Linked DNA regions of Homo sapiens. The protein of the gene in region 2 purifies or fractionates together with the protein of the main gene of each other region. This does not show direct contact. Each region holds a gene or a part of one and is shown on either strand. Other genes may lie near its edges.

Region 1 (3,500 bases), about 56 Mb from region 2:
AAGAAACTCATTACTGAGACCCTGCTGTGTGCCAGGTCCTGGGCTAGGGTCTGTGACTTTTGTTATCTCACCTGTGAGGTTGATAATGTTAGCCCATTTTACAGCTAAAGAAACTGAGGCCCCAGCTCTGTGTCTGGGAAGTGAAATTGCACCTTTTTAGTCCGTTCCAAAGCCCTCACCACTCCCTGGCTCCCCAGTGCTAGGCTGTGTCACAAAAGAGGGGAGTGGCTGGGGAACATCGTGGCCAGAGGGAGAGAAGGTGGGAACAGGATTGTCTTCAGTGGGAATGAATGAGATCAGCCATGGGAATCCTTCCCACCTCACCTCTTCACTGACAGAGCAGGGCAGGGGGATCGGGGGTGTCCTCCCTCCCTCCTTCCCTCCGACCATCCCTCATGGACCTGGTCTTCGCCCAATCCTTGGTTTGGTGCTGACCCCCAGTGGCAGCAACGGGTATGACAGTCCTCAGATGAGACCCAACTAGGGAGGCTTGAATCCCAACTGTCCTAAGCATAAAGACCCTCATGAGTACACATCTCTAAGGGGCACATGGGGAAACTGAGACCCACAGAGAAATATACCCAAAGTCAGGACAATAGTTAATGGCAGAGTCAAGGCTAGAACCAGAGCTGGGTGTGGTGGCATGCACCTGTAGTCCCAGCTATTTGGGAAGTTGAAGCGGGAAGATTGCTTGAGCCCAGGAGTTTGAGGCTGTTGTGAGCTGTGATTGTGTCACTGCACTACAGCCTGGGTGACAGCAAGACCTTGTCTCTTAAAAAAATGCTAGAACCAGGATCATGTAAGGGGAAAACAGTTGCTATTTATTAAGCACTTACTGTGTATATCAAGCAGTGTGCTAGAGGCTTTTAATTCACGTAACAGTCCAGGGAGGGAAATAATGCTGTCATGTTTATATAGATGAGGAAACTGGTCCCGCACTGAAACTCTACCATCCCATCTACCCTCTCTTCCAGGTCTCCCCCCTGGACTTGTCTCAGGGTATAACCCTTGGTATAACCAAGGGTATAACCTGAATTTCACATTCAGCCCCAGCCCAAGACTGCCAGAGAGCCACAGAGGACTGTAAAAAAGCCCTCCAGCCCCAGTGTCTAGCTCAGTGCCTGGGATAGAGCAATGATAACATAGTGACCATAGCTACCATGTGTCAAGTGCTAGCTACATGTCAGGCATTTATATGCATCAACACTAACCAGCCCTGCCTCCCCCGCCCCCAGTAAAACCAATGAGGTAGGCATGATTTAATAGATGAGGAAGCTGAACTTCAGAGAAGCTGAGTGGGTGCCCAGGGTCACACAGCTACTCTGTGGAGGGGCCAGAATTAGAACCAGGCCTAGCCCAGCCTCCCAACATGAAAGACTTTCCATTGGCTGGGGAGGGTACATCAGCTGAATCTTGGCTCTCCCTTCACCACCCCTTCTTCCCCAGCTGGCTCCAGAGCACACGCTCATGTCCTTCCGGAAGGCCCTCGAGCAGAAGCTGTACGGGCTCCAGGCTGACATTACCATCAGGTAGGTGTAGCGGAGGGGAGATAGTTCCTCTACCCCTCCCACACGCTTCGGCATCCACCTGGGTCTCTGCTGGGGGAACCTCTGGTCTCAGAGCCTCTGAGATGGGAGGAGGAAGACTTAGATTATCCACAGCAGGGCAGGCACCCTGTTCCTGCAGACTCCAGGATGTAAAATAGAGGAAAGAACAAATGCTCTTGGTGCAAGCAGGAGCACTGCCACAGAGCCACTTGAAGGGAAAAATAGATGATAGAGCTACAACACTCTCATGAGGGAAATAAAGCAAGTTGCAGAGTGATACATTCACTGTGACTCCAGTTACGTTTTAAAATACCACAAAAAAGTGACATATACACTTTCTCCATGTACATATATAAGTAGATATTAGTATAAATGGCAGGAAGAATCCATACTAATCTCATAACAGAGGTTATCTGAGAAGGGAAGAAGGGCAGAACTGTCATATATAGTTGTACAGGTTGCATACTGAACAAGGGCATCACATAAATGAGGACATTGTTCCCAGTATAGACATAGAATTGTGTGTTTATCACAACTTTCTAGCAGATGGTGGTAAAATGCCTTGAGGAACAGAGGGCACAGGTACCTTTTACTGTTTCACACTAAGGCACCATATGAGCTATTTGCAACCCTGGTAGAGTAGACAAGGATTGGGGTTGGGTGGAATTTGCCAAAGAGGTCTACATTTGCACTGTTCTCATCATAGCATCACAGGGATTTGGTTCCAAACTGGGTTCCACCACTTACAGGCTGTGGACCTTGAGCTAGATACTTCCCTCTCTCAGCCTCAGTTTCTCCATTGTCAAATGAGGCAGCACCTACCTTCCAAGGTTGCTAAGAGAGTAGGTCCAGATTTTTCCCAGCCCTCCCTCCTTGGCAGTCCCCACCCCCATCTGACCCTCACAGAGAGCCAGAAGGCATTGGACCTTCAGGGTCACCCACCAGCCCACTGTCTTCCCTGTGCAGATGGGGAGACTGAGGCCCAGAGAGGGGCAGAGCCAGCCGGGATCCTGTGCTGGGTGGGGAGGACTGTGTGGGGTGACGATCATTGGTGGGCAGGTAAAGGATCTGGGGGGTCACTGACTCGGTGGCCCCACCCTCCCTGCAGCCTGGACGGCGTGCCCTTCCTCATGCATGACACCACCCTGCGGCGCACCACCAACGTGGAGGAGGAGTTCCCGGAGCTGGCCCGCAGGCCTGCCTCCATGCTTAACTGGACCACCCTGCAGAGACTCAACGCTGGCCAGTGGTTCCTGAAGGTCTGGCTGCACCTGATCCCAATCTTAGGCATGGAAAACACCAGCAGGGACTGCAAGGAGTGAGAGGTGCAAGGGTGGCCATCAGCTTCGAGACCCCCACTCTCAGAGCTTTCGCGACCTCCACCCAAGCTGCTTAGTGGCCTCCTAGGCTCCTGCCACTGCTGCCAGACTCATGGTTGTCACTGCTTGTTCTGGGTCCATTTCCCTCACTAGAAAAGGTTGACAGGGATGAGAGCAGTGAATAGAATTCTTAACTCTGTAAAACTCTAGAGAGGGGTTGGCTCTCTGATCTGAAATGCTCTAGAAGGAGAAATGCTGTGGGTCTGGGAGCGATTCCAAGCAAGCCGTCCTCCGTCCTCTTGGTAAGCAGGGTGTGGGGTAGAAAGGTTAGGGCTGGGGCCTCCTACAGCCTCCACATGGCCACAGCCATCAATCTGCCTGACCCCAGCAGACTCTGGCAGCCCAGGGGTCTCCACGCTTGGTTGCCAGAAGGGTATGTGGGGGCCCCCAAAGGGCTGATGATGCAGCCATGTGTGTGTCCCTGTCCCTGCCAGACTGACCCCTTCTGGACAGCCAGCTCCCTGTCACCCTCCGACCACAGAGAGGCCCAGAACCAGTCCATCTGCAGCCTGGCAGAGCTCCTGGAGCTGGCCAAGGGCAATGCCACACTGCTGCTCAACCTGCGTGACCCGCC
Region 2 (3,500 bases):
TATTGAACCAATGAGGGGATAAGCTTATGTAGGTTAGATCTAAAAGACAGCTACTGTGCAGATCTAAAGGATCTAATGAATGAAAATCAGTTGGTTGAAGTTATAGAAAGGCAAATTTTAGCTCCATATTGAGAGACTTAACTGCAAAAGTGTTACCAGCTTACTGGGAAGGCTGTGTGTCTATAAACTATAGTCCACATCTGAGTGCCTTAGATAAAGCATTCTTAAATTCAGGGAAGGGAGAGTATGATTCTCTCCAGGGAATCAGAAAAGATTGCAAGGAAGGAGGGAAAATATAAGTTAGGTTTTAATCGCAGTTAAGACTTGGATACCCTAAAAGTGTGGTTTTAGAAGAAAATGAGAGGAAGTAGGGGACATTTTAGGTCAGTGAACCACACAGGCAAGAGCACCAAAGCAAGGAGTGTCTTCAGCTTCTATGTGAGGTGATAGGGTGTAATTCACTTTACTTGGAGAGTGGTGATCCAATGATTCCCCTGCCATTTGTTTTGTAAGTTAATCAAAATAGGAGCCGAAAATTCAGTCAGCTCAGCGTGCAGGATCATTGCATTATGAAACTGAACGTATTTTTGAGAACTGAACGTATATATTTTGAGTCGTGTGTCGATCAGGATTTCATAAAGAAATTATGATGTGATTCTTTCACAAAGGATCTTGCCCTATGTACCTTTAATAGTGTCTTTCTGCAAACATGTATCTAATATATAGGGAAATACTTTTATTTGGAATCTCTGAATCAAGAGGGTTGTTTCTTTGAATGATTTTGTTAAAATGATCAAAGAATATTTTTCTAGATGCTCACAGGAGAGCCACAATTACACCATTAGAGATAAATTTATTTGGTCTTGAGTGTCACTTTTCAGGATGTTCCTCATAAGTTGCAACTATTCCTATCAAGTATTTAATATGAGCTTCAACTAATAAGGAAACATTAATTATTAGCCAAGTGGGAACAAATTCCAGTAGGATTAGAACATAGGATGGGAAGAGATTTAGGGGCAGGGACATGTGTGCATAAGGAAGGTGAGATTCTTAGGTGCCAATGATGAAATTTGCTTACATCATAATTACATTATTTTTAAAGGAAGTTTGGTGTATTCCTTAACTTGGCTTTAACATTTAGCAGGAGCCCCTTTCTATTTCAGTTTCATTTTCAGCATAGTAGCCTTTCTATACTTTTTCTATAAGACTTGGGCAACTGATCCAGGCTTCACTAAGGCTTCTGAAGAAGAAAAGAAAGTGGTGAGATTTCTTCGTTACTGATATTTTTAATAGGAGGGTTTGTAAACTTTAGAAAGTTTATATGCACATATGCAGATGTGTTGCTTTTTGTTACGGCTGCATGACATGTGGGGTGATATAGCAAAAATTAGATTTCCACTCTTACAGTTTTTTCATTTATGTATATGAAAGTTTTAACACATATTTTTATTTTCTGTTGAAATAATACCCCACCAAGACTTTTTCAGATGTGATTCCTTTTAGGAATATGATCTCCTACTTCCTTGTAATAACATTTTCATAATGGTCATTTAGCTTACATTTCCCCACTAAATAAATGGAGAGTAACTAGTCAGTGACCAGGGAGAGTCCTTCTGCTTATTGGCTGAGGAGATGCCCCTCCTCCTCCTCAAATGTGAAGTTGTCAGATGACATGGCATGTTTTCCGTTGCTCATGAATGTTTAGAAGTTGGAGAATGTTGTCTTTGTTACCTAAAGCCAGTGTTCCTGAAAGACCCAGCCCTTGGTGCTTGTAACTTTCAGTTTTGATGTATACTGGTGGGTTTTTCTTTTTTAATGTGTGTGTATATTTGCATATTTATTTTTCTCTAGCAGATCATAACTGGGAGATGATTGCCATTCACAGAGATGAGGTGATAGGTGGGAGTGGTGGGGTGGTATAATTTTTATGCATCCTAATTTATTAGCTGTTGGTTGAAAATGCAACCTTGAAGAGTCACATCATTTCAAGCACAGAATGATTTGGTGGCAAGTATTCCAAATTGCTTTTCTAACTACTTCAGTTTGGAGCGAGAACTGTGAGAATGGTGTATAACCATGCATAATACATTTTCCAATAAAATGTGGTAATAGGTCAAACTTCATGTCTTTCAGAATATCATCACCCTTGCAGAAACTGGCTCTCTGGACTTCAGAACATTTTGTACATCATGTCTTGTGAGTTTTTTCATATAATTTTTTTCCGTAGTGAAAGCAAAGTCTTGGTAACGTTGCTGATGTAAGCATTTGTCAGATCTTCATGGTATATTTATACACCTTTGTTTTTACCCATTTCTAATTTTACATTCCTGTCTGAACAGCTTTCTGTCTTGAACATATGGCAGAATGATGTTTATAATCTCTTGAAGTTGTCTCTGGTTACATCTCTCCGTGAATTATCCATTGTGTGTTTTATTTGCTTTTCTCTGTCATGAAGCATATATTAGAACTAACGTCAAATCAGAGGCTCATAATGACCTTAGAAACCACTTAGTGAAACCTCTCATTTTGCAATTGAGGAATCAAGGGAGGAAGTAAATTCTCCCAAATTATTGGTGGTGCTAAAAATGGAACTTGGGTTTCCTTCCCTTGGTTGAGTGCTTATTTTGCTCTGTGGTACTGCCTCATTTCTGCTTAGCCAGTGTGAACAGGCTCTGGAATTCAGATCCCACTTAGTGATGTCCTAATCAAAGTAGACATATGGAAGTAAATACTAATAAGGCATTCCACAGCCTCTGTGTGAATTGATGGTCTGTTTAGGATTTGTGCCAATGCCTCTGTGACCTAAAGTTAAAATTTTGCTTGTGATTTGTTACCACTTTGAGACACTGGTTTTTGCTTAGGCCTCTCTTAATTGCCCACTTAGATAAGGAAGCCATTAAGGTCACTCCACTGCCATGTATGCAACTGCTGTGTGGCTCGATATGATCAACACTGCCTGTGGACTGGACGGTGCATAGGTGAGAGATTTAATTTTTCAATTACTACTGTGAAGTTAAGCATATGTTTAGTTATGACTCACAGAAAAAGTGGAAGGGCATCCTAGGGCTCCATTTTCAATATTCTAGTATTCCAATAGCAATGGGCCCATGCATCGTTATTATGCTACAGGTAACATAATATTTGCACATGCATCATTCTGTTTGGTAGCCACAGGCCTGTGAAGTAGACAGAAAAAATATTATCTCCATATTACTTGTAAAAACGCTAGATCAGAGAAGTTAAAACACTTAACTTACAGTGACACAACTAGTAATACATAAGCCTAGGTCTCCTGATTCCAATGGGTGTTGTTCCTTCTGCCGGGTTTTGCTGCTCCAGGAGAAGGTCGGACCATGATGTAGTAGCTGAGGAGTATTTGTGTCATTAGCATTGAAATGCTCCCATCTCCAGCATTGAGAAGGCAGCGTGTGCAAGAGAAGACTTAGCTGCCTTGCCCTTCCCGCTTTCTTCCCTTCTGTAGAAGTTTCTCAGATTGTGGG

What was found. The genes of interacting proteins can lie anywhere in the genome.
Region 1: the proteins of ZDHHC13 (region 2) and GDPD5 purify together in Homo sapiens (co-immunoprecipitation; one large-scale study listed by IntAct). This does not show direct contact.

What each region holds. Positions count from the first base shown.
Region 1 is NC_000011.10:75,442,442-75,445,941, reverse strand, and holds part of GDPD5 (glycerophosphodiester phosphodiesterase domain-containing protein 5), read left to right. Parts: intron 1-1,446; coding exon 1,447-1,529; intron 1,530-2,655; coding exon 2,656-2,806; intron 2,807-3,360; coding exon 3,361-3,500. UniProt on the Homo sapiens protein: Glycerophosphodiester phosphodiesterase that promotes neurite formation and drives spinal motor neuron differentiation.
Region 2 is NC_000011.10:19,162,168-19,165,667, forward strand, and holds part of ZDHHC13 (palmitoyltransferase ZDHHC13), read left to right. Parts: intron 1-1,135; coding exon 1,136-1,260; intron 1,261-2,133; coding exon 2,134-2,196; intron 2,197-2,884; coding exon 2,885-2,978; exon of another isoform or gene 2,979-2,980; intron 2,981-3,500. UniProt on the Homo sapiens protein: Palmitoyltransferase that could catalyze the addition of palmitate onto various protein substrates. Palmitoyltransferase for HTT and GAD2. May play a role in Mg(2+) transport.